Homo sapiens: one gene and its partners. The protein of the gene in region 4 purifies or fractionates together with the protein of the main gene of each other region. This does not show direct contact. Each region holds a gene or a part of one and is shown on either strand. Other genes may lie near its edges.

Evidence for each region.
Region 1: the proteins of FAM200C (region 4) and ZNF507 purify together in Homo sapiens (affinity purification with mass spectrometry; 2 studies listed by BioGRID and IntAct, with this or other methods). This does not show direct contact.
Region 2: the proteins of FAM200C (region 4) and ARID3A purify together in Homo sapiens (affinity purification with mass spectrometry; 2 studies listed by BioGRID and IntAct, with this or other methods). This does not show direct contact.
Region 3: the proteins of FAM200C (region 4) and CRLF3 purify together in Homo sapiens (affinity purification with mass spectrometry; 2 studies listed by BioGRID and IntAct, with this or other methods). This does not show direct contact.

What each region holds. Positions count from the first base shown.
Region 1 is NC_000019.10:32,376,580-32,383,613, reverse strand, and holds part of ZNF507 (zinc finger protein 507), read right to left. Parts: intron 1,148-7,034; coding exon 1,013-1,147; intron 898-1,012; coding exon 531-897; 3' UTR 1-530. UniProt on the Homo sapiens protein: May be involved in transcriptional regulation.
Region 2 is NC_000019.10:929,016-936,049, forward strand, and holds part of ARID3A (AT-rich interactive domain-containing protein 3A), read left to right. Parts: exon of another isoform or gene 1-130; intron 131-246; 5' UTR 247-513; coding exon 514-881; intron 882-3,402; coding exon 3,403-3,727; intron 3,728-7,034. UniProt on the Homo sapiens protein: Transcription factor which may be involved in the control of cell cycle progression by the RB1/E2F1 pathway and in B-cell differentiation.
Region 3 is NC_000017.11:30,786,665-30,793,698, forward strand, and holds part of CRLF3 (cytokine receptor-like factor 3), read right to left. Parts: intron 7,009-7,034; coding exon 6,786-7,008; intron 6,167-6,785; exon of another isoform or gene 5,909-6,166; coding exon 5,776-5,908; exon of another isoform or gene 3,974-5,775; intron 998-3,973; exon of another isoform or gene 775-997; intron 1-774. UniProt on the Homo sapiens protein: May play a role in the negative regulation of cell cycle progression.
Region 4 is NC_000005.10:160,392,622-160,397,062, forward strand, and holds the end of FAM200C (protein FAM200C), read right to left. Parts: intron 2,919-4,441; 5' UTR 2,870-2,918; coding exon 1,085-2,869; 3' UTR 527-1,084; downstream 1-526.

The DNA of each region.
Region 1 (7,034 bases), on a different chromosome or scaffold from region 4:
AGTAGATCATTTCAAAGCCCTCTAATTATGTTTCCTTGTTGACTCTGTTGGTGACACTGAAAAAACCCCCTCCCAGAACTGCCTCCCATTTCTCACTGGAGGCCTCACAGTCTGCATTTGACAAGTGAGAAGAAAACTAAGCTCTGCTTAAGACTGTGACCCTTTTATGACTTTTAGAATAGTTCCTGAAAAGCCCTTTCTTAACTCTTGCTGGCATTTCTACACTCTAATAAGCTTTTATTAATAAATACACTCGACACTAAGAAGGGGTGACAGAGGGTTAATACAGGATTACACCTCTACTTCCTCTTTGACCCACTCCCCCTCACTCAAAATATTTAAATATCATTACTGCTTGTCCATTTGGAATTCCTTTTATTACAAGTTTGGTTCCAAAGTCACATCTGTCATTTCCTCAAAAATCACATCAACGACTTCTTCTGTGGCAGGAAGTTGTCTGACAGCGTAAAGGTGAAACTGTGGTGAAGGAATCCTCTTCTACTGCTTTCCTGCTCGAGTCATTATTCCACCTAATTTGTGTTTAGAGCTGTATTGTGGTCCTTATTCAGGATGATGTTTACAATTTCACCCTCGTGCTCTTTCATATGATCCAAGAGGTTTTCTTTGCTGGTTGATTCAAAACCACAAATACAACAGCAGAAGAGTAAAACGCAGTACTCCATGCTAGGAGGGGCCAGACTGGAGATTTTTTCTAAACTATATGAGGTATTACTTGTAGGGCTCAGTTTCTCATTCTCGTTGGTACCCAGAACTTCACTGGGAGTCTGGGACATCAGTTCTGAAGATGACACTGCATTTTCTGAACTTCCAGTGACGGGATCTGCACTCTCTTCACTGCTCTTTAATTGAGTCTTTCCAGGGGATTTCCCCAGAACTCTTAAAAACAAAACAAACACAGCACACCGTGAGGAGGCTACAATGTAGGACTAGTAGATTTAATCCTGGCTTTAATTTACATATAGCAATAAAGGGAGGGGGTAGGATGAAATACCTGCCACTTTGTGAAATCGCGTCGTTAATAGCCTTGTTTACTTGTTCGTAGTTGTAATTTTGGTCACTTGCATGTTTCCACATATGAGACTTCAAAGAAGGAGGATGGCTACACACATACCCACACAGAGAGCATCTGGAAGACAGGCAGGCAAGGGAAAATCAGAACGGTCCCATAACATCAGTGAAAAATTATCATGATTCTGTAACAATTATTATAGCCCTTCCTCCGAACCCTTATTAGACATATCGTATTTCACTGAATCTAAGATGTTACTGATTCTAAGAGGTACACTGATTTCAGAGAGGTCCTAGAATGGAAGTCCTAGAATCAATGAAAGAAGGTCTTTTATATTATAAAGAATTAGTAAGAATCAAGACAAACATTCCAGATTACTTTAGTTATTACAATATTTGGAAAGATTTTTGATGTAGTAATATGCAAAATATTTGCTCTAAATTATTTAATCATACAAAGAAAAACTTACACAATTAATACTTTGTACCACTCTACTACTTGAGAAAGCAAAAAGGAACGAAATGATTTTCAACATGAACTGTGCATTCTTTATAGATCCACAAAAAATGGAAGCAGTCGTCTTGAAAAAGCTTCAGCAATTTAGATTTCATAAATAAAACAAATAATCTTAAAAAGTTTCTATTAGAAAACATAATTGTTCCACATACTTGAGTACACTTGGTAAAATCTGAATTTAACAATGAAAGATTTTTAGAAAAATTAATAGACTTTATTTTTTAGATGCCTTTAGGTTTACAGAAAAAACTGGTCAGATAGAACTGAGTCCTCCTATAACCCCTCCTCCCCTGCACCCAATTCCTCCCATTATTAACATCAGTGTGCTGTATTTGTTATAAATGATGAATCTATATTGATAAATTTTTATTAACAAAAGTCCATAGTTTACATTAGGGTCCACTATTTGTGTTGTACAATTCTGTGGGGTTTTTTGTTGTTGTTGTTGTTGTTGTTGTTTGAGATAGAGTCTTGCTCTGTCTCCCAGGCTGGAGTGCAGTCTTGCTCTGTCGTGATCTTGGCTCACTGCAACCTCTGCCTCCTGGGTTCAAGCGATTCTCATGCCTCAGCCTCCTGAGTAGCTGGGATTACAGGCATGCACTTCCACGCCTGCCTAATTTTCATATTTTTGGTAGAGATGGGGTTTCACTATGTTGTCCAGGCTGGTCTTGAACTCCTGGCCTCAAGTGATCCACCTGCCTCCCAAAGTGCTGAGATTACAGGTGTGAGCCACCATGCCCAGCCAATTCTGTTTTGACAAAGGTATAATGCCATGAATCCACCATTCCAGCGTCATATGAATAGTTTCACTGCCCTAAAAATGCCCTGTACTCCACCTTTTCATCCTTCCTTCCTGCCCCTGAATCCCGGGCAACCACTGATCTTTTTGTTGACTCCATAGTTTTGCCTTTCCCAGAAGATCACATAATTGGAATCATAGCGATATGCATGTATGGTTTTTACATGTCTTTCAGGGCTTGATCATTCTTATTGCTGAGTAATATTACATTGTGTGGATGTATCATAGTTTGTTTGTTCACTCACCTGCTGAACAATATCTTGGTTGCTTCCAGTTTTTTGCAATTATGAATAATTGGTGATAGGAACATTCATGTGCAAAGTTGTTTTGTTTTGCTTTTGAGTCTGGGCCTTACTCTGTTGCCCAGGCTGGAGTACAGTGGCATGACCATAGCTCACTACAGTCTCAAACTCCCGGGCTCAAGCAATCCTCTTGCCTCAGCTTCCCAGCAAGCGCAGGTTTTTATAAGGAAAGCCCAAGTTTTTATAAGGATAAAAGTTGTCATCATTTGGGCAAACACTCAGGAGCATAATTGCTGGGTCGTATTGTAAAACTGTCATCTTTTTAGGAAACTGCAAATGCACTTTTCCAAAGACATTTTTGTTAAATACTTAATTACAAACCTAACAAACCAGATAACTTACTTACCTGAACTCTTTCCTACACCAATAAGAGACACAGTCAGCAATAACGAGGCACAAAGAAAATCAAACGGCATAGGAGTAAATAAAACAATTAAATACGGTCAAAGACTAAACTCTTTTTCTCACCCACCTCCAATTTAACTTTGTGATAGCATGCAGCTGTATTCTTTTATCATACACTCTGAGGAATCAGGTCCAAGGCCAAAGGTCTCTAAGAAATACCAGCCCACTTAACAGGCAATAAACAGGCAGTTAGTTCTTTTTTTTTTGAGACAGGGTCTTGCTCTGTTGCCCAGGCTTGAGTGCAGTGGTGGAATCATGGCTCACTGCAGCCTTGGCCTCCTGGACTCAAGTGATCCTCCTACCTCATACTCCCTAAGTGCTAGGATTACAGGCATGAGCTACCATACCCGGCCTAAATAGGCAATTCTTGATAGGACTTCTAATAAATTCAACTATATGAAAAGATGTTCAATCTCACTAACAATCAGGGAAATGTATCACACCCCTCAGACTGGCAAAGATAAGTGAGTCTGATAAAATGTGGAATCTGATAAATCTGGTAAGATTTTTCACAGATGTGGAAAAATGGAAATGTACAAATTTTATGTATGGCACTCTGAAGAGCAATTTGGCAATATCTATTAAGGCTGAAGTGGCACACACCTGTAGTCCCACAATTCTGGTGTTCACAAGGAAACACATACAAGAATCATCCTAGCCATGAACACCAAAAAAGGATACAACCCACAGTGACTGTTCTTCCACAAGCATATGAAAACAAATTGGTTTATTTTCATATAGTGGAATGTTACAAAGTGGAAAAAAAAACAACAACCAAAAAACCCCCATGAGATCTACACTTAGCACCAGAAACCAATGCCAATAATGATCAGTGAAAAGAAAAATAAACAGATCTGTTAAGCTTTTAATTTAAATAAATTGTTAAAACACCAAAACCAACAGAATGTATTACTTAATACATCCATATGTATGTATATACACATACATATGTTATATACATAGAAAAGTTATTCACGAATACCTGCAATGATACACATCACTGTCAAGACAATGGGTTACCTCTCAGGAGGAAGGGGTGAAGAAGTAAGAAAGTGAGGCTTTAGCTATATCTACAATGTTTTATTTCTTCAAAATGTGGTAAAATGTTTGACATTTCATTAAATATTTAAAAAAATTGTTCCCCTATTCTCTTTAAGCTTTTACAGCCTGCATTCTCCTTAAGACTTTATTACAGCTGGCATAATAAAACAAAATCACTACATTTTATTCTTGGTTATCTACAAAAAAACCCTAACCTTAATTCATTTTATTTTGCCCATTTATATCTGAGATGCAGCAATTTTTTGACAAACCTCAATAAATCTATAATATTTTCACTAACATCTTTATCAGAGGGTGGGCAACTGGCAACTTCTCCACCCCCAAGCCATTAAACTCAGTGTCTGTATCTGTGACTGTCACACGGTCGTGGTGTGTACTGTAGTGTGGTCACAGTCCCCTGCTCAAATGTCTCTGGATCAGTTGCTTGAGAAGGGCAACTGCCCTGCACCATGATGGCTGGGCACCCAGCTCATTGCCAGCCAAGAGATGCCCACTCCCTTCCGCCTAGTGCCTCTACCAAGGTGACTTTACATATGTTGTGCTATCATACGTTAATTTTTATGTTATGCAGAGGGGAAACAGACACGAAATGCTGGCTGTTCAGACACTCGCCTCCTCACTTTCATTCAGATGTGGTCCCGAGGCCTCACCAGAAAATTCTTTATCTGGAATGATCCCCCAGTGACAAGTCAGACTTATGCAACAAGAATTTCATATTTTTGAGAAAACTGGGTCAGAAAGTAAACTCCAGAAATCTCAAATTGATCCTATAGAACATCTCTAATGTTATTCCAACCTTTTAAAAATAAGAGTGATGAGCTATTGTTTACTGTTTTCCCTTTTTTTTTTAAAAAAAAAAAGCTTCTAATTTTAGAATAGTTACAGGTATAGATACAGATATATAGAAAAGTTATTTCCCTTACTGTTAACATGTTACCTTCCTGGGGTACATCTGCCATAAATCAGGAGCCAATGTTCCTTACATCATTATTAACTGAAGTCCACACTTTATTCGGATTTCCCTGGTGTGTACTTAACATCCTGTTTCTGTTCCACGACCCCATCCAGGACAACATGGCTTTTAGTCCTCACGTCTCCTTAAGATCTTCTAGACTGCAATTATTTCTCCTACTTGCCTTGTCTCTTTGAGACGGAGTTTCACTCTGGCGCCCAGGCTGGAGTGCAGCGTTGTGGTCTCGGAAAACTGCAACCTCCGCCTCCCAGGTTCAAGCGATTCTCCTGCCTCAGCCTCCCGAGTAGCTGGGATTACAGGTGTGTGCCACCACGCCTGGCTAATTTTTGCATTTTTAGTAGAGATGGGGTTTCGTCATGTTAGCCAGGCTGGTTTCTAACTCCTGACCTCAGGTGATCGCCTGCCTCACCCTCTCAAAGTGCTGGGATTACACGCACTGAGCCACCAAGCCCGGCCAACTTGCCTTGTTTTTAATGCCCTTGACAGATCTGAGGAACATGGGTCAGATATTTTGTAAAATGTCCCTCAGGTTGGGGCTGTCTGCTGTTTTTTTTCATGGTTAGACTGAGCTGATGGGTTCTTGGGAGAAAGGCTACAAAGGAAAAGGGCCATCCTCCCCACATCCCACTCTCAGGAGAACTCACCCCTGACCTTCCTCCCCTGGCTGAGGTCAGGTTTCTCCAGGGTCAAGTTCCTCTTTCTCAACCCGGTTTCCAAAGTGTACCACTGGGAAGGGGGTCACTGGGTGCAGCCCACACGTAAGAGCTGGGATAATCAACTGCCTCCTTGAGGGAGGGGTATCTACGTCAATTACATGGAATTCTTTTGCATGGGGTGTGTCTATTCTCACCCACCTATTCAACCATTTATATACATCAGTATGGACACGTGGTTATTTTATACTTTGGGATGTGGGCAGCAAGCCACCTAGGTGCCGAGGCAAGAGACCGAGGGCACGAGCTGTTCCAGTATAATAAAATATATAAAACAACAAGAGTTAATGCTAGATATAGATCATAGATATGATTATATATGAATATCATTAATCATTAGTTTGTAGCAATTACTCTTTATTCCAATACTATTATAATCTTTGCTCTATAATCATAACCTAGGAAAAACCAGGCCATATAGAGATAGGAGCGGAAGGGACACAGTGAGAAGTGACCAGAAGACAAGAGTGCGAGCCTTCTGTTATGCCTGGACAGGGCCACCAGAGGGCTCCTTGGTCTAGCGGTAATGCCAGCATCTGGGAAGATGCCCATTGCCAAGCGGACCATGGTCTAGCGGTAGCGTCAGTGTCAAGGAAAAACACTCGCTACTTAGCAGACTGGGAAAGAGAGTCTCCCTTTCCCCAGGAGAGTTTAGAGAAGACTCTACTCCTCCACCTCTTGTGGAGGGCCTGACATGAGTCAGGCCCGCCCGCAGTTATCTGGAGGCCTAACCATCTCCCTGTGATGCTGTGCTTCAGTGGCCACGCTCCTAGTCTGCTTTCATGTTCCATCCTGTACACCTGGCTCTGCCTTTTAGTTAACAGTAGCAAAATTAGTGAAAGTACTAAAAGTCTCTGATATGCAGAAATAATGGCGTAAGCTGTCTCTCTCTCTCTCCCTCTCTCTCTCTGCCTCTGCTGCCAGGCAGGGAAGGGCCCCCTGTCCAGTGGACACGTGACCCATGTGACCTTACCTATCATTGGAGATGACTCAACACTCCTTACCCTGCCCCTTTGTCTTGTATCCAATAAATATCAGCGCAGCCTGGCATCTGGGGCCACTACCGGTCTCCGCGTCTTGGTAGTAGTGGTCCCGCAGGCCCAGCTGTCTTTTCTTTTATCTCTTTGTCTTGTGTCTTTATTTCTACAATCTCTCGTCTCTGCACACAGGGAGAAAAACCCACCGATCATGTGGGGCTGGTCCCTACATTGGTGCAAATTCTGTATTGCACTAT
Region 2 (7,034 bases), on a different chromosome or scaffold from region 4:
GATCTCCTGGGGCAGACAGTCTGGCCACAGCGTGTTTCTCTGTGGCCCCGTGCGGGGCGACCTTGCTACCCAGGCCCACAGTAGGCTGTATGCGAAGAGCCTGCGCCTCTGCCTCCAAGAAGGCCTCCAGGTCTGCATCCTGCATGAGATGGACATGAGAGCTGATCCCCAGGGCCTTCATGGGGAAGGAAGGAGGGGGCTTGAGGAGCTCAGGCCTGCTCTGACTGTGCCTTTTTTCCCCCTCAGGTTTCTGCAAATGCGTGAATGAGCCGGATGCCAGCCTCTGTCCCCTGGAGCCCAGCGTGAGGAAGAGGCATGCCCCATCAGCCTTCAGCTTGAGCCCGGCGGCCCCCGCCCCCGCCCCCTGCCACCCTGCACTGCCCCGGCTCCCCCGCGGCCCCCACGCTGCAGTGCGGCCGGGCCCCCTCCCCGCAGGGGCCGCCCCCGCCGCCCACCCCTAGCGCCCGTGGTGGTGGTGGTGGTGGTGGTGGTGGTGGCCCGGGCCGCAGGGCCATGAAACTACAGGCCGTGATGGAGACGCTGTTGCAGCGGCAGCAGCGGGCGCGCCAGGAGCTGGAGGCCCGGCAGCAGCTGCCCCCCGATCCCCCTGCTGCACCCCCCGGCCGGGCCCGGGCTGCCCCCGACGAGGACAGAGAGCCCGAGAGTGCCCGGATGCAGCGGGCTCAGATGGCCGCACTGGCAGCCATGCGGGCTGCAGCTGCGGGCCTGGGACACCCAGCCAGCCCCGGCGGCTCTGAGGATGGGCCCCCAGGCTCGGAGGAGGAGGACGCGGCCCGGGAGGGGACACCGGGCTCACCCGGGCGAGGCAGAGAAGGGCCAGGAGAGGAGCACTTTGAGGACATGGCCTCCGACGAGGACATGTGAGTTGGGGTCTGGGGCAGGGCCTTCTGGGGGCTGTTACTGGCTCTGAGTGTCACTCTGCTCATCTGCAGAATGGGAGTAAGGGTCAGGTCGCGGGATCTCCTTCCTGTAATTCCAGCAGTTTGAGAGGCCGACGTGGGAGGATCACGTGGGCCCAGGGGTTGGAGACCAGCCTGGGCAACATAGCAAGACCCCATCTCCGCAAAAAATTAAAAAATTAGCCAGGCATGGTGGTGCACCTGTGGTCCCAGCTACTGGGGAGGCTGAGGCAGGAGGATCCCTTGAGAACAGAAGTTGAGTTGTGATTGTGCCACTGCACTCCAGCCTGGATGACAGAGATAGACCCAGTCTCAAAAGAAAAATGGTTTTTTTAGCCGGGTGCTGTGGCTTACGCCCGTAATCCCAGCACTTTGGGAGGTCGAGGTGGGTGGATCACCTGAGGTCAGGAGCTCAAGACCAGCCCGGCCAACATGGCGAAACCCCATCTCTACTAAAAATACAAAAATTAGCCAGGCGTGGTGGCAGAAGCCTGTAAACCCAGCTACTCGGGAGGCTGAGGCAGGAGAATGGCTTGAACCTGGGAGGTGAAGATTGCAGTGAGCCAAGAATGTGGGTTTTTTTTTTTTTTTTAGACAGAGTCTTGCTCTTTTCGCCCAGGCTGGAGTGCAGTGGCGTGATCTCAGCTCACTGCAACCTCCTCCTCCCGGGTTCACACCATTCTCCTGCCTCAGCCTCCCGAGTAGTTGGGACTACAGGCGCCCGCCACCACGCCTGGCTAACTTTTTGTATTTTTAGTAGAGACGGGGTTTCACCATGTTAGCCAAGATGGTCTCGATCTCCTGACCTCATGATCTGCCTGCCTTGGCCTCCCAAAGTGCTGGGATTACAGGCGTGAGCCACCACACCCGGCCAACTTTGTTTCATCTTAGTTAACTTAAAGCAACCTAGCCACCGATGGCTACAGCAGATTCAGCGGCAGGGGCAGATAAAATCTGCAGCCGGCTGGACCTGCATAGCGTGTGGGTCCCCCCAGGGCTGGCTGAGGGCTCACTTGCTGTGGGATCCTGGCCTCCAGGAACCCGCATCTTCCTGGGAGGACCTGAGCAAGCAAAGATGCTGGGCGCAGTGGCTCACGCCTGTAATCCCAGCACTTTGGGAGGCCGAGGTGGGAGGATTGCTTGAGCCCAGGAGTTCAAGACCAGCCTGGGCAACCTAGTGAGGCCCCATTTCTACAAAAAGTACAAAAATTAGTCGGGTGTTGTGGCATGCATCTGTGGTCCCAGCTACTCGAGAGGCCGAGGCGGAAGGACTGCTTGAGCTCAGGAGGTCAAGACTGCACTGAGCTGTGATCACACCACTGCACTCCAGCCTGGGCAACAGAGAAGACCCTGTCTCAAAAAACAAAACTGGCCGGGTGCAGTGGCTCATGCCTGTAATCCCAGCTACTCAGGAGGCTGAGGAGGAGAATCGCTTGAACCTGGGAGGCAGAGGTTGCAGTGAGCCGAGATCGTGCCTTTGCACTCCAGCCTGGGCAACAAAGTGAGACTGTGTCTCAAAAAAAAAAAAAAAACAACCAAACAAAACCTAGCAGCAAAGAAGCAGGTGATATCAGGTTGTACAAACAGCTGCCAATGGCTGGGCGTGGTGGCTCACGCCTGTAATCCCAGCACTTTGGGAGGCCGAGGTGGGCGGATCACGAGGTCAGGAGATCGAGACCATCCTGGCTCACACGGTGAAACCCCGTCTCCACTAAAAATACAAAAAAATTAGCCAGGCGTGGTGGCGGGCGCCTGTAGTCCCAGCTACTTGGGAGGCTGAGGCAGGAGAATGGCATGAACCCGGGAGGCGGAGCTTGCAGTGAGCCGAGATTGCGCCGTTGCACTCCAGCCTGGACGACAGAGCGAGACTCCCTCTCAAAAAAAAGACAAAAAAAAAAAAACGGCTGCCAAGAAAGTCTAGGAGGGTGCCGTGGAGGGGCAGTGGCGAGGGTGGGGCGGATTTCAGATGGCGGTGGGAGAATTCTCCCTGTGGAGGGAAGGGGAGGTGGAGCTGGGACAGCATGCATGGTGCAGGATGCAGGAACCAGCCTGCCGTAATGATTCCCTTTTTTTTTTTCCCAAGAGAGTCTTGCTCTGTGGCCCAGGCTGGAGTGCAGTGGTGCCATCATAGCTCACTACAGCCTCCATCTCCTGGGCTCAAGGGATCCTCCCGCCTTGGCCTCCCAGAGTGCTGCCGGGATTATAGGTGTGCGCCACCGTGGCTGCCTGCGTGATGCTTTTCAAGGCCCCAAAATTCACGCTGTAGGGACGGCTTGTGCTGTTCTGGGCTAATTGGAAACAAAGTGGGCGTCACGGGTGCCCCACGCTGTGCTCATGAGCGCTCTCTGCAGTCTGAGCTGGCGGCGGCCGGCTCTTCCTATTTCCAGAGAGGGAAACTGAGGCTGGGCGGGGAGTGGGTCTTTCCTTGGGCTGGGACGAGCCAGCACCTTCTCCCCTGACTCCTGCCCTCTGCTCACCCCAGGAAGCCCAAATGGGAGGAGGAGGAGATGGAGGAAGACCTCGGGGAGGATGAGGAGGAGGAGGAGGAGGATTACGAGGATGAGGAGGAGGAGGAGGACGAGGAGGGGCTGGGCCCCCCAGGCCCTGCCAGCTTGGGCACCACGGCACTGTTCCCCCGAAAGGCCCAGCCACCCCAGGCCTTCCGCGGCGATGGCGTTCCCAGGGTGCTGGGGGGCCAGGAGCGGCCGGGGCCTGGCCCTGCCCACCCCGGAGGGGCCGCCCACGTAGCCCCGCAGCTGCAGCCGCCTGACCACGGCGACTGGACTTACGAGGAGCAGTTTAAGCAGGTGAGTGGGCGCGTCCCGCGTGGCGGCTGAGGCACCTGCTCCTGGGCCAGTGGGGCCCTTTGAAGGCCCACGTTGCACGGGGTGTGTGCTGAGCCGGGCGTCGAGTTGAGAGCTGGGGGTTCCTGCGGTAGCTGTGCTTCCTGTGCTTCCCTCCTGGGCGTGGGCTCGACCAGCTGGCTGTTCATTGCTCTGATGTGGGATGTGTGAGGAGCACCCGGCCGGGTAGGAGAAACCTGGGGGGCTCCACGGCCCCCATATCGGAGGTGATGGGGCAGAGATGGAAAGGTGGGCCTGGGAGGGAGAGGCTGGCGCCGGCCCGAGCTGGGCTTGGGTTGGAGGAACCAGGCCTGCGGGCGATGCGGGCAGAGAGGCCGGGGCCTTGGTGACGTGGTGACTTGGCCTCCTCTGTCCCCTGGCATCTGTGGAGAGCCGTGGGGGGTTGCGGGCTGCAGCTGGCAGCCGAGGGGATGTGGGGGTGGCTCAGGTGTGGCTGCAGGAGACGCAGGAGCCAGGGCCTGTGAGGCTCCGAGTGGGCGGTTAAGGCTGGGGCCGGCAGGGGGTCTCAGGGACCCCAGGCTGAAGGAGGAAGTAGGGGCCGCCCCAGCCTTTCCCCGCAGGCGGCCAGGCCAGAGGAAGTGGCCGGGCGGGGGATGCTTTGAAGTTGGGCCGTGCTGGGCCGGGCAGATGGAAACCAGATGGTGGCCAGGCTCACATTCCAGCCCTCGTCCAGCTGGGCTCTGCCTCGACCTCTGGGCGCGGCTGGGGGGAGCCACCTCCTCGCCCGGGGCTGGAGCTGGTCTGGGCTCCCGCAGGGAGGTGGATGATGGACACGCTGGGACATGCCTGCCTCGGGGCAGCCCCTTCGGCCCTGGGCTTCCAGAATCCGCTCTGAGGAGCCTCCTAGGAGGGGCCAAGGCACAGACACCCAGGGGGGCCTCCCCGGGGCTCCTGACTCCAGGGGTGCCGGGTAGCTTAAGGGGCGGCCCTAACCCCAGCAGCCCTCAAGAGACTTAAGGTTGGGCTGCCTGGAAACTCACAAATAGTAAAGAGCTGAAAGCCGGACACGGTGTGGGAGAATGGCCAGGGCAGCGGCGGGGACTCGGTGGGGGGGGGGGGCGTCTCGCTGATTCCACCCTGCTCTGTGACTCAGTTTCCCACTCCTGCAGAAGGGGATGCTCCACGGGCCACACTGCCGCGCGTCCCATTCTGCCAGTGAGAAAACAGAGGCTCAGTGTTGGGAGGAGGGGTCTTGTGATCTTTTCTGGGTTTAAGATGATACGGATGAGCATGCTGAGAGTGGATTCTCTTTAATTTCATTAATTTAATTCACCAATTAATTTAACATTCACCCAATATTCGCCATCTGCCCGGGACTCAGCCCGCAGGGAGCCCTGGGCTGGAGGGGCGGGCAGGAGCCGGACGGAGACCTCCATCCCCGCAGGGTTATAGCCAAGCCGAGAGGGAGGGTCAAGGCCCCCCATTCAGTCGGTCCTTCGGGGGTCAGAGGTGAATGGGACCCCCTGACCCTGGACACACGCCCCGCCCAGACAGCCCCGGCCTCCAAGGCCCAAAGCCGATGGGGGAGTTTTGGGGTGACTGGCCCAGACCAGGCAGGGATGAGGGGCCAGGCGCCCTGACCCCACAGCCCGCAGCATGTCCTGAGCGAAGGCAGGAGGCAGAAGCCACTGTCTACCTTGTCTGGGCGACACCGCGGGTCAGGGTTGTAGGTGCCATGTGGGGTTTTTCTGCAGCGGGAAGCCGAGATGGGGAAACTGAGGCCAGTGCAGGGAGGGGGGTCACTGTGTCACCGGCAGCCTCAGGTATTCCTGGAGATCCTGCCGCCCCGCACCTGCCCCCTGGGTGTACCGGGCAGTGCAGAGGCCCTGAGGTGGACTAAAGCTCGGCTTGTGTGTAGGGACCGGGTGCCGCCTCTGGGTCTTGCGGGAGACGGGATTGGAACTCCGAGAAGATGAGGGCCTAGGGATGGTCGTGGGCAGCGGGGGTGGGGGGAGGCCCCCGCCCTGCAGTCCTGTGACTTTTTTTTCTCTAGAGAAGGGCTTTCACGGTGTTGCCCAGGTTGGTCTCAAACTCCTGGGCTCAAGTGATCTGCCTCACTCAGCTTCCCAAAGTGCTGGGATTACAGGCCTGAGCCACGGTGCCCAGCCAGTCCTGGGATCTTATCCTGGGCTGTTCGTGGCAGGTCCAGCCGCCGATGCCGCCGCCCGCCCAGCTGGCCAGACACCTGTGTTCCCAGTGTCAACAGTGGCCTGGGCCCAACCAGCCCAGTCAGTGTTACCTCCCGCCCGGCCCCTACTGGGGCCCCTGTTGACTCTGGCGCCTGCCCCACCCCCTTCCTGGCACGTGGCAGGCCTGGCCCGCTGGCCGGCCGCTTGGCACCGTCTCTGCCTCTTCCTCCCAGGTCCTGGCAGGGCTCGGGGCTAACTTCCGCCTGCAAATCCTCGACAGCTGTGAAATTCTGCTGTCGGCTGCAGGTCTGGTGGGTGGCCAGGCCGCGGCGGGGGGCCGGGCGCAGCAGGCTCAGGGCCACGGGTTCTTTCCTTGGACACCTGGAACCTTGCTGCCTGGGGCCTGGGGACGTGCAGTTTTGGAGGCCAGCACGTGTCGGGCAGTGATTAGGATCTCAGCCTCCTGATGTCTGACGTAGCCTCCTGGTGGCCTCCTGTCACCCACACAGCAGGCCCAGCTTCTAGAAAGCGGCCACGGTAGGATTTTATTGGATTATTATTATTTTTGAGGCAGGGTCTTACTCTGTCGGGTAGGCTGGAGTGTAGTGGTGCTGTCCTAACTCACTGCAGCCTCGATCTCCTGGGTTCAAGCGATCCTTCTGCCTCAGCCTCCTGAGTAGCTGCGAGTACAGACGGGCGCCACCAAACTCAGCTAATTTTTGTAGAGACGGGGTCTTGCTATGTTGCCCAGGCTGGTCTAGAACTCCTGGGCTCAGGTGATCTGCCCTCCTTGGCCTCCCAAAGTGCTGGGATTACAGGCGTGAGCCACCGCACCCCACCATGGTAGGATTTTATTTATATATTTGTTTATTTATTTTTTGAGACGGAGTCTCGCTCTGTCGCCCAGGCTGGAGTACAGTGGCGCGATCGCGGCTCACTGCAAGCTCTACCTCCCGGGTTCACGCCATTCTCCTGCCTCAGCCTCCCGAGTAGCTGGGACTACAGGCATCCGCCACCGCGCCCGGCTAATTTTTTGTATTTTTAGTAGAGACAAGGTTTCACCGTGTTAGCCAGGATGGTCTCGATCTCCTGACCTTGTGATCCGCCTGCCTCGGCCTCCC
Region 3 (7,034 bases), on a different chromosome or scaffold from region 4:
CAAACACAGGCATTCTGACTCTAGAATCAATCAATCTATCTATCTATTTTTTTGAAATGGAGTTTCATCCTTGTTGCCCAGGCTGGAGTGCAATGGCGCGATCTCAGCTCACTGCAACCTCTGCCTCCCTGGTTCAAGCGATTCTCCTGCCTCAGCCTCCTGAGTAGCTGGGATTACAGGGATGCACCACCATGCCCGGCTAGTTTTGTATTTTTAGTAGAGACGGGGTTTCACCATGTTGGTCAGGCTGGTCTCGAACTCCTGACCTCAGGTGATCCGCCTGCCTCGGCTTCCCAAAGTGCTGGGATTAGAGGCGTGAGCCACCACACCTGGCCTAATTTTGTATTTGTAGTAGAGACACGGTTTCACCATGTTGCTCAGGCTGGTCTTGGAACTCCTGACCTCAGGTGATCCACCCTCCTTGGCCTCCCAAAGTGCTGGGATTACGGAGTGAGCCACCGTGCCCGGCCTAGAATCTATATTCTTAACCATTTGTAGCCATGATGGCACACTTCTATTTTATATTCTAGCTCTAGACACATAGAAGGTTTGTCATAGTTGACATTATAATTTATGTAACTATTGCTGCCAGCGCCTAAATCTTCCATATAAGAATTTGCAATGATTTGATTACTATTTGTTAAGTAAATAAAGCATTTAAAAAGAACTATTATAATCCTAAAAAATCCCATTATGGTTATGAAGACACTATTCAAGCATGAAGAACTTCCTATGTGGCAAGTTTAAGCTTTTCCTTTTGTGTTTTCATTTCAGATGTCAGTACTTTGTGTGCTCTTGAAATAGGAAATGTACAGATCCCTATTGCCAGACACATCATTCTCTCCATCCAGAAAGCCAACTTTGCAAGGACAAAAAAAAAAATTAGTGTGAAACAAAATGTGGCTTTTCCAAAGACAGATGTGATTATTTATAGTCAATGTGGCCTCAAAATGTCATTGATTGTGAAATAGCAAACATGCAGGATCATAATATTTGGGTAGGTTTCTGAAGTTATTTCATATCTGAGCAGTCTAAAGAAGTATGGGGAGGAGGGGCCGGGCATAGTGGCTCACACCTGTAATCCCAGCACTTTGGGAGGCCAAGGAGGGTGGATCACCTGAGGTCAGGAGTTCCAAGACCACCCTAGGCAACATGGTGAAACCCCGTATCTACAAAAAATACAAAAATTAGCTGGGTGTGGTAGTGGCTCCTGTAATCCTAGCTACTCAGGAGGCTGAGGTGAGAGGGTCACTTGAACCTGTGAGATGGCGATTGCAGTGAGCTGAGATCATGCCACTGCACTTCAACCTGGGCGACAGAGCGAGACCTTGTCTTAAACAAAAAGAGGGGGAGAGCTGGGGAGGGGAATGAGAAAGAAAATAGGCCGGGTGCAGTGGCTCACGCCTGTAATCCCAGCACTTTGGGAGGCCGAGGTGGGCGGATCACAAAGTCAGGAGATTGAGACCATCCTGGCTAACACGGTGAAACCCCGTCTCTACTAAAAATACAATAAATTAGCCGGGCGTGGTAGCAGGCGCCTGTAGTCCCAGCTACTCAGGAGGCTGAGGTGAGAGGGTCGCTTGAACCTGAGAGGTGGAGGTTGCAGTGAGCCGATTGTGCCATTGCATTCCAGCCTGGGCAACAGAATGAGACTTTGTCTCAAAAAAAAAAAAAGAAAAGAAAAGAAAAGAAAGAAGGAAACCTTAAAAAAAATCAGAAAATCTTAGAAGCAAGGAAAGAGCAGGAATGTTCACATAGGAAGTGAGGGAGACCTGGAAGGAGGGGGTTGCTAGCAGACCTGGGCATCTAATGAGAGTGGGTCTAGAGACTGTTAAAATCCAGCCAGTATCACAGGTTTCTCTGGCTTCAGCAGCTCCAAGCCTTCCAGAAGCTTCAGCAGGGACTGACTGGGATAAATAACAAAGTAGTGCCTTCTTTTTTTTTTTTTTTTTTTTTTTTTTGAGACAGCATCTCACTCTGTTGCCCCGGCTAGAGTACAGTGGCGTGATCTCGGCTCACTGCAACCTCCGCCTCCTGGGTTCAAGCGATTCTCCTGCCTCAGCCTCCTGAGTAGCTGGGATTACAGGCACACACCACCACGCCCGGCTAATTTTTGTATTTATAGTAGAGATGGGGTTTCACCATATTGGCCAGGCTGGTCTCGAACTCCTGACCTCGTGATCTGCCCACCTCAGCCTCCCAAAGTGCTGGGATTACAGGCGTGAGCCACCGTGCCCGGCTAACGTAGTGCCTTCAAGAGTATAGTCTCCCTTCTAACTACTAGGCCCTTAAGTACCCTCAAAAAACTAAATATTGTTTCTCTTGATTCAAGTAGGCGCACTTGCTCCTCCCTTATGCCCTTATGCATGGAGTCCCCCTTGCATTCACATCTCTGGCTTCACTGCTGATGCCTGAAATTCCTTTAAACAAGGGGAGAAAACATTTCATTCCACAAAGAAAAAAATGACAAAAATGCAAAAGGCTGGCTACCATTATATTGAGTTTAACTGAATTTCAGTTAATCACCCTGCCAAGTGGGGCCTGGTGATGCATCTTTAGGAGATGCAAGAGAGACTCAACAGTTTATTGAGACCTAATGTGTCTTTCACATCACGGTCAGCAGAGGTGAATTTAAATCAATTTGTATAATTTCCAATGTCTTAATAAATATTTACTGAATGGTCTAAGAAATAAACCTAACTATGCAATCTATCAGACATTACCATGTGTCCAAGGAGGAAGAATTTAAAAAGCAGGAGAGCATCAGATCAAGTGGTGAAAGGTCATAAGAGGTAAAAGTTAAAGAGCTAAGGACACAGTAATAGAGAAACTGTAGACTTCAACACTAACTAGAATCATGTTAACTCTCCCATGAAAAAGAAGCAATACAGACCAGTCTGGAGTCGAACTGCCTGGATTTAAACCCTAGTTTTGGCATTTACTAGCTGTGTGACACTGGGTAAATAACTTCTCTATGCCTCAGTTTCCTCATCCCTAAAATAAATAACCCATCTATCTCACTGGGTTACCATGAAAATCAAATGAGTTAATACAAGTAAAATACTTAAGACAGTACATGGCACATAGTAAATACTGTTTAAATATTAACTGCAATTATTATTATTATCATCATTATTGCAGTCTGAGATATCTGGCCTGAATTTATCAAGTTAGGAAGCTCTGTCATTGCACAGAAATACCTTGTTCTCAGGAGAGTCACTAACCGAAGTGCTTCTGTAAACAAGGGACATAAGCAGAGAAGGGGTATGTAAGTACAGAAAACTCATGATTACCTGGGGAATAGTTAAATAGATTTTAGGTATTAGTTGTTTTTTTTTTTCCTCTCTCTCTCTTTGTTGGTATTTTTCTGTTTACTGAGTCATTCTTCATTAAGGGGTGAGGTGTCAAAAATTAGACAAAACAAACTAGTATAATCTGACAACCGCTGACAATTCAAATTACTTAGCTGGAGAGGAATACAGCAACACTGGCTTAGATAAAATATTCAGATATTCTCCATGCCTTAAATAATAAGGGCCTGAGAACAAAAGGAACTTGGGTCAAGCATTCACAATAAAATCCCATCTCAAGACTTAAAACTTAGAGGAGAGCTTGTTACACTAAGGTGAGTATGGTGAAAATCAGGCAAACTTTACTTCTCTAAGTCAAAACTGGTCTTTAGTTTCTACGAAGAGCTATTCAGAAACATGACTATAAAGAATACATCTCAGATAACATGAAAACAAGAAAAAAGAAACTTTTCCATTACAGAAAGAAATGGGTAGAGAAACAACATTAATTAGTGGTAGGGGAGGCTTGCTTTCAGTTTTACTTTAGAGAGTAGCATATACATAATATGTTTACAGTGTTGTCTCTTACAAAGACTTGCTGTTAATGATTCACAAAGGACAAAACAAATTCTTGGCCAGTAAATTTTTTTGCTTTTTTTTTTTTTTTTTTTTTTTTTTTCCAGACGGAATCTTGCACTGTCTCCCAGGCTGGAGTGCAGTGGCACGATCTCTGCTCACTGCAACCTCCGCCTCCAGGCTTCCAGTGATTCTCCTGCTTCAGCCTCCCGAGTAGCTGGGACTACAGGCGCACCTCACCACACCCAGCTAATTTTTAGTATTTTTAGTAGAGACGAGGTTTCACTATGTTGGCCAGGATGGTCTCGATCTCCTGACCTCGTGATCTGCCCACCTCGGCCTCCCAAAGTGCTGGGATAATATGCATGAGCCACAGTGCCCGGCCTATGCTTTTTTTCTTTTTTTTGAGACGGAGTCTCGCTCAGTCACCCAGGCTGGAGTACAGTGGCGCGATCTCAGCTCACTGTAACCTCTGCCTCCCAGGCTCAAGCAATTCTCATGCCTCAGCCTCCTGAGTGGCTGGGATTATAGGTGTGTGCCACCACACCCTGCTAATTTTTTTTTTCTTTTTGAGACGGGTCTTGCCCTGTTGCCAGGCTGAAGTGCAATGGCTCACTGCAACATTTGCCTCCCGGGTTCAAGTGATTCTCCTGCCTCACTCTCCCTAGTTGCTGGGATTACAGGTGTGCACTACCACATCCAGCTAATTTTTGTATTTTTAGTAAAGATGGGGTTTCACCATGTTGGCCAGGGTGGTGTCTTGATCTCCTAACCTTGTGATCCACCCACCTCAGCCTCCCGAAGTGCTGGGATTACAGGCGGGAGCCATTGCGCCTGTCCTAATATTTGTATTTTTAGTAAAGATGGGGTTTTACCAGGTTGACCAGGCTGGTCTCGAACTCCTGACCACAAGTGATCCAACCGCCTCGGCCTCCCAAAGTGCTGGGATTACAAGTGTGAGCCACTGCGTCCAGTCTCTTGGCCTCTAAAATTTTTTTTTTTTTTGAAACGGAGTCTTGCTGTGTCGCCCAGGCTGGAGTGCAGTGGCGTGATCTCGGCTCACTGCAAGCTCCGCCTCCCGGGTTCACGCCATTCTCCTGCCTCAGCCTCCCGAGTAGCTGGGACCACAGACACCCACCACCATGTCCGGCTAATTTTTTTATTTATAGTAGAGATGGGGTTTCACCATGTTAGCCAGGATGTTCTCAATCTCCTGACCTCGTGATCCGCCCGCCTCAGCCTCCCAAAGTGCTGGGATTACAAGTGTGAGCCACCGTGCCTGGCCAGGCCTCTAAATTTTTAAGATTTACTTTTTAATTTTGTGTGTGTGTTTGAGACACAGTTTCGCTCTTGTTGCCCAGGCTGGAGTGCAATGGCATGATCTCAGCTCACTGCAACCTCTGCCTCTTGGGTTCAAGCAATTCTCCTGCCTCAGCCTCCCAAGTAGCTGGGATTGCAGGCATATGTGCCACCATGCCCGGCTGATTTTGTATTTTTAGTAGAGATGGGGTTTCTCCATGTTGCTCAGGTTGGTCTCGAACTCCCGACCTCAGGTGATCCACCTGCCTCGGCCTACCAAAGTGCTGGGGTTACAGGTGTGAACCACTATGCCCAGCCTAAGATTGACTTTTGAGAGATACTCTACTTACCTCTACTTACCAAGAGGAAAAGAGATATAAACATATTAAATAACAAGCATTTTATATACATTTCCCAGTTAATCTACGTAATAACCCTGTGAATACAGATGAGAAAACTACAGCTACAGGAAATAAAGAAGCCTTCCCACAGTAACACTGCCTATAAATGACGGAATAAACTCAGGATGTTTTGAATTCAAAGCTTATGTATGCTCTATGCACTTCACTCTGCTTCCTGAGGCAGGTGAGATGTTTTAATATCTACTTGCCTGAATGTTAATGTCTGCCCACAGAAATAAGTCGGAGCTCTGGAGTAGAGAACACCCGATGATTCAGAATCGTTCCGAAGTGCTATATTTCTTCGACTGCTCAGACTGTACCCCTCAAAACCAGCTGTCCACTCTTTTTCAAAGCAAAGATATTGAAAACTGTTAGAATCTCTTGAGGGATATCTTCAATACAGACACGTTAAATAAAACATGGAAATGGGAGACTACTCTTAGGGGCCATGGTCAAGTTCAATAAAATAAAAGATTCCATTAACAGGGTATCATGATCAGTCCCACAAATTACAAAAGATTTTAGTATATTCCTGCATAATTTTGACATAATAAATCACACAAGTGTTATCTCTTATCTAATAAAATCATTGTACAAGCATAATTGCTTGAACTTATTCCAACCTGATAAAAATCTAATTAATAGGCCAGGCGCGGTGGCTCACGCCTGTAATCCCAGCACTTTGGGAGGCCGAGGCAAGAGGATTGCTTGAGCCCAGGAATTTGAGACCAGCCTGGGCAACATAGCAAGACCCAGTCTCTAGAAAAAAATAAAAAATTAGCCAGGTGTGGTGTGCATGCAGGTGGTCCCAGCTACTTGGGAGACTGAGGCAGAAGGATCTAGAGGTCAGGCTGCATGATTGCACCACCACACACCAGCCTGGGCGACAGAGTGAGACCTTGTCTCAAAAAAACTAACTAAATAACATTCAAATATAAAAAAAAGAATAAAAAGGAATATCAGTGCCCTACATAATATTTTCAATCTTTGGTTTTCAATGAGGCTAAAAATCTTGTCCAGCATTTTTTTTGGACTCTGAAGAACTGATGAAAACAAAAATCACATGAGGTAATCTGAGTAAAAGACATGGTGCATGTTGTTCTTATCAATTCAGGATCTATGCTTAGAATAGCTGGTTGTCAGTGTGCTGCCCTTAGCACAGAATACAGGTATTCTAATATATAGTTAGGCTTCAGGAGAGAAAAGGTTAGCAGCATACCATGAGGCACCAATGTGGAATGACCTATCTGGGGGACACTCCAAGGACTCCACTCCTGTCGGCCATCTCCTCGGGCGCAGACTCTGAACTGGTAATCAACGTTGGGGTCTATGTGCAATACTATGAATTCAGTTTCAGAACCTACATATACATCCTCAAAATGATTTGAAGTACATTTACGAAACTGGAGCCTGTAATCTTGGGCTGTAAAGTCATCATCCACCTAGGGAGAAAAGCTTTATGTTAGGT
Region 4 (4,441 bases):
GGTAATTGGGCAGGAAGGGGATTGTGGCTTTTCCTTATAGGACTCTCTATATCATTTTTTCCCAGCCTTGAGCATGTAGTACTTTGATAAAATATTAATGTTTAAAAATAGAAATGAAAATTTATTTAAATTAAAAAATATTTTGCCAAATTATCATCCAGAAAAAGTGTGCTAAGTTAGATTCCCATGGGGAATTTTTTGATGGTCTTGAATTACTCCATTGATTTCATGTCAATTTATTTATGATTTATACTCTGACATTTTGAACTTAGAAAAATACATATAAGATGTAATATAAGTGACAAAATTAGGGTAAAGGAAAAATAAGTATAGGAAAAATTGAACCCAGAGGACCCAAGAATCCAAGAATCCATCAGAACAGTCTGGAAAGCTGGTTATGAATGAGGATCCTTGACCTTATCACAGGCCTACTAATCACAATCTCTAGGGTAAGGCTCAGGAATCTCCTTTTCAGCAGCCTTGATAACTTGGAGTTCTGAAGTAATTTAAAGATGACAAACAGTGATTAATATATTAGGCTATTTATTAATATGATATTCATAGCACAGGAGCTAGGGGAATGGACATTGTGAGACTAACTCCAAAGAGTATATTTAAAAGTAAGTCTTACATAAGCCAGATCATTCCTTTTCCCATTATATTTCATAATCCTCTTCTGATTTCATTAACCTCTCCATAACAAAGACGGGCGAACTCAATCTTTCATTTTGCCTTTTTGACTTCTGGGATATCTTCTCTTTTCTCCTGGCTCAATTCCTAGCCTATTGCACCATTTAGCTGGATATTCTAGTGCTTAGGTATCTTTTTCATATACCACACGAACAGGTTAAACAGATACTTAGAATTGGGAAAATCTCATGATAGCAACTAGGCAGTAGTACTTAATCTTTTCTGCTGTGTTTTTATTCTCAAAACATATTTTCACATGCCTCATTCAAAATTAAAGTTCTTAAGTTTTTTAGACATAGAATTCAGTATATCATAAATATGAAAGAGACAGAATTACAGCTTAATTTTACAATGATATTAAGATTGAAATTATTCATTAAAAAAGTATATCAGCTTACAGTGACTTCTGCTGTAGCTGTAGCTTTTGTTCAATGATGTCCGAGAAACGAGGAACTTTTTTTGAAATAGCCACACGGATATCATCACTCAGATTAAAGCAGCTTCTGGACTTTGTTTTGAAATGTAAAAGTGATGAAAATCCCAACTCACAAAGGTATGTAGTTGCAAATGGCATAAGGATTTCTAGAGCTGTCTTTGCCAGGTTTGGAAATGCTGTGAATTGGGCACACCAGAAATCCTCAAGCTTCATTGTCTCAAATTCCATTAGGATTTGGCCACTAGCTCGTAATTCAGCAAGATCATTTTTCATTAAATAACTATCATCAACAAAATCGATATTAAAAAGAAATGGATCCAATATCCATTTACTTGCCTCATTAAGATCTCCAATGGAAAAATATCCATGGAAGAAGTTGCTCAATTGTTGCAGATGCAGTGTTATTTCAGCTGCAATGAATATGCCTTCATTATCTGAAACAATTATTTCTTCAAGAAAAGGAAAATTGGTAAAATTTCTTTTCTCAATTCGTTTTTGCCAAAATGGAAACTTCCTAACAAAAGCAGATAACTTCTCTCTAGCTGATACTGTGTTCATCCCAGTCCTCTGCATAGATGCACTGAGTTCATTTAAGTGTTTGAATAAATCTGCAAGGTATGCTAGGTGAATTTTAAACTCTTTATTTTCAAAGCCATCAACTAAATTACTGCTCTTGTGGTGAAGAAACTGATTTATTTCTTCATACATTTCAAAAATGTGAGTAAGTATTTGGCCTCGGGAAAGCCACCTCATTTCAGTATGGAAAAGGAGGACACTATATTCTATGCCAATTTCTTCAAAGAAAGCCTGAAATAGGCGATGATTTGGAGCTCTCCCTTTGATGAAATTTATTACCCTCACCACAGTAAACAGAGCATCCCTCAGTTTTGTAGGCAATGTCTTTATGACAAGTGCATGAGGATTCAATAAACAATGTGTAACTACGATATGAGGTATCTCTTTTTTCACGTAGGCAACAAACTCGGAATTTTCTCCTAGCATAGAGGAGGCACCATCAGTACAAACAGAGCCACATACATCAAGTGCTATCTTATGCTTCAGAAAGAAGTCTCTGAAGAGATTGAACACATCTATTCCTTTCATGGATAGCTGCAATGGTTCACAGAAGAGAAATTCTTCTACGATCTCTCTTTCTTTTATATAGCGCACAAATGCCATTAGCTGACTGCAGTCATCCATGTCAGTTGTCTCAGCAAGCTGAATACCCACTTTAAGAGGACTGGCTTTGATATCTTCTAGAACTTGCTGTAAGATATCCTGGCTCATTTCATCAATTCTAGAATGGATCACATCATCTGATAAGGGTACCTGCTGAAGCTTTTTTTGTGCATCTGGTCCCAAAACTATTTGTGCTATTTCCAGTGCACAAGGTTTCACTAACTTTTCAGCTACTGTATGAGGATTCTTCTCCTTGGCACATAAATACGCAAATTGATACGATGCTTGTAATAAAGTATCCTCATGAGATGCAACTCCAAATGCTTTCAAGGTTTCACTCTGATCAGATGGTGCTGGCATATGCTTCAGGCTATTGAGATCATGCCCAGCTACACCACCATGCTGTCTGTTAAAATGGTCTGACAGTTTTGATGGTCTGAGGTCAGCATTTGAAAATACTGAGTTACACAACACACACTGTGGACGCTGAGTTCCATCTACTTCCGTTGTACAGGTGAACCAGTAGCGAACATAGTCATCATCCCATTTGCGTTTCTTCGACATGGCACACAAAAATTCTCAGGTAGTATTCCAGAGATGCCACAGAATTTTGCTTTGGGAGTAAAATATAACCCACACATTAAAAACCAGTGGCTAACTGAATTAAAACAAAGCCACATCACATGCTATCTTGTATATGTCAAGATACAGCCTGCAGCATGTCAATTCGAAGTAAGCCATGACAGGATATAGTTCAACTTAAAGCTAGCAACTCATAGCTAATGCCCTGGAATAAATGATTTGCCAGCAAGTTATATATGGGAGATTTGAGCTTAGACAAGTTATGAACACCTGTAAGTCCTTTATTGGTGAATTATAGTTATGGCTTAACTTGTTTTCAATAATGTATGTTACAAACAAATCTAGCACATTTTGTATCCCTAGAAAGGGCATCTCACTACCACCACCTTCTTCCACTCAGCCCCAAAGATGTATGCATACCCTCAGTTAAGAATCACTGAATAAAGGAGCAATTCACTAAATAAGGAAGGGTGGATTCTGACATGGAGGTTAAAATAATTGTATACATTTATGGGGTACAAGCACAATTTTGTTATATGCATAGACCACATAGTGGCAAAGTGAGGGTTTTTAGGGTATCCGTCACCCAAATAACATACATTGTACTCATTATTTCTCATCTACTCCCTCCCACCCCACTCTTCCACCCCACCCTTCCAAGTCTCCTTTACCCATCACTCCATTATCCACGTCCATGTGTACACATTATTTAGCTACCATTTATGAGTGAGAACATGGTAGTTCTTTTTAATAGTTAAAGACTAAACAGGTCTGTAATACTATTTGAACCTTGAGCAGTTTTGACTCCAACTTAGGCAGAGAATTTCAAATAGGTCTTTAAGTCTGATTAAGCCACCCCTGATGCAAAGGTAGGCTACAAATTGGCTCAGAGCTTCCTTGCTGCTAAGTGTAACACACTATCAGTCCATGATTCATAGTGTCCATATAAAAAAGCAAAATGGTCGGGCGTGGTAGCTCATGCCTGTAATCCCAGCACTTTAGGAGGCTGAGGTGGGTGGACTGCCTGAGCTCAGGAGTTCGAGACCAGCCTGGGCAATATGGTGAAACCCCATCTCTACTAAAAATACAAAAAATTAGCTGGGCATGGTGGCATACGCCTGTAGTCCCAGCTACTAAGCCAAGATCATGCCACTGCACTCCAGCCTGGGCGACAGAGCAAGTCTCTGTGGAAAAAAAAAAAAAAAAAAAAAAGCAAAACAACTTGCTCAGGGGAAACACAACTATTCTTGTTACCGAGACTTCAGAAAAATCCCTCTCATAGGAGAACACTCTTAAGTAAAATAACGAATTTCATGATGCTTTTCCACCTAAATACCTCTAAGGGAAAGCAGTCAAGAACACACACATGCACATACACAAAATAAGCAGCATTCCTAAGGTTTGGTTTAACCCAAAGACAGGATGTAGAAGGCCCTACCCATAGAGATTCTGATTCTCCAGCTATGGAGTGGGGGCCTAGAATCTGTATTGTAAGTATTTTAGATAATTCTTATAAATAGTAACTAGAACAGTGATCTGTGACAAGAGACACCA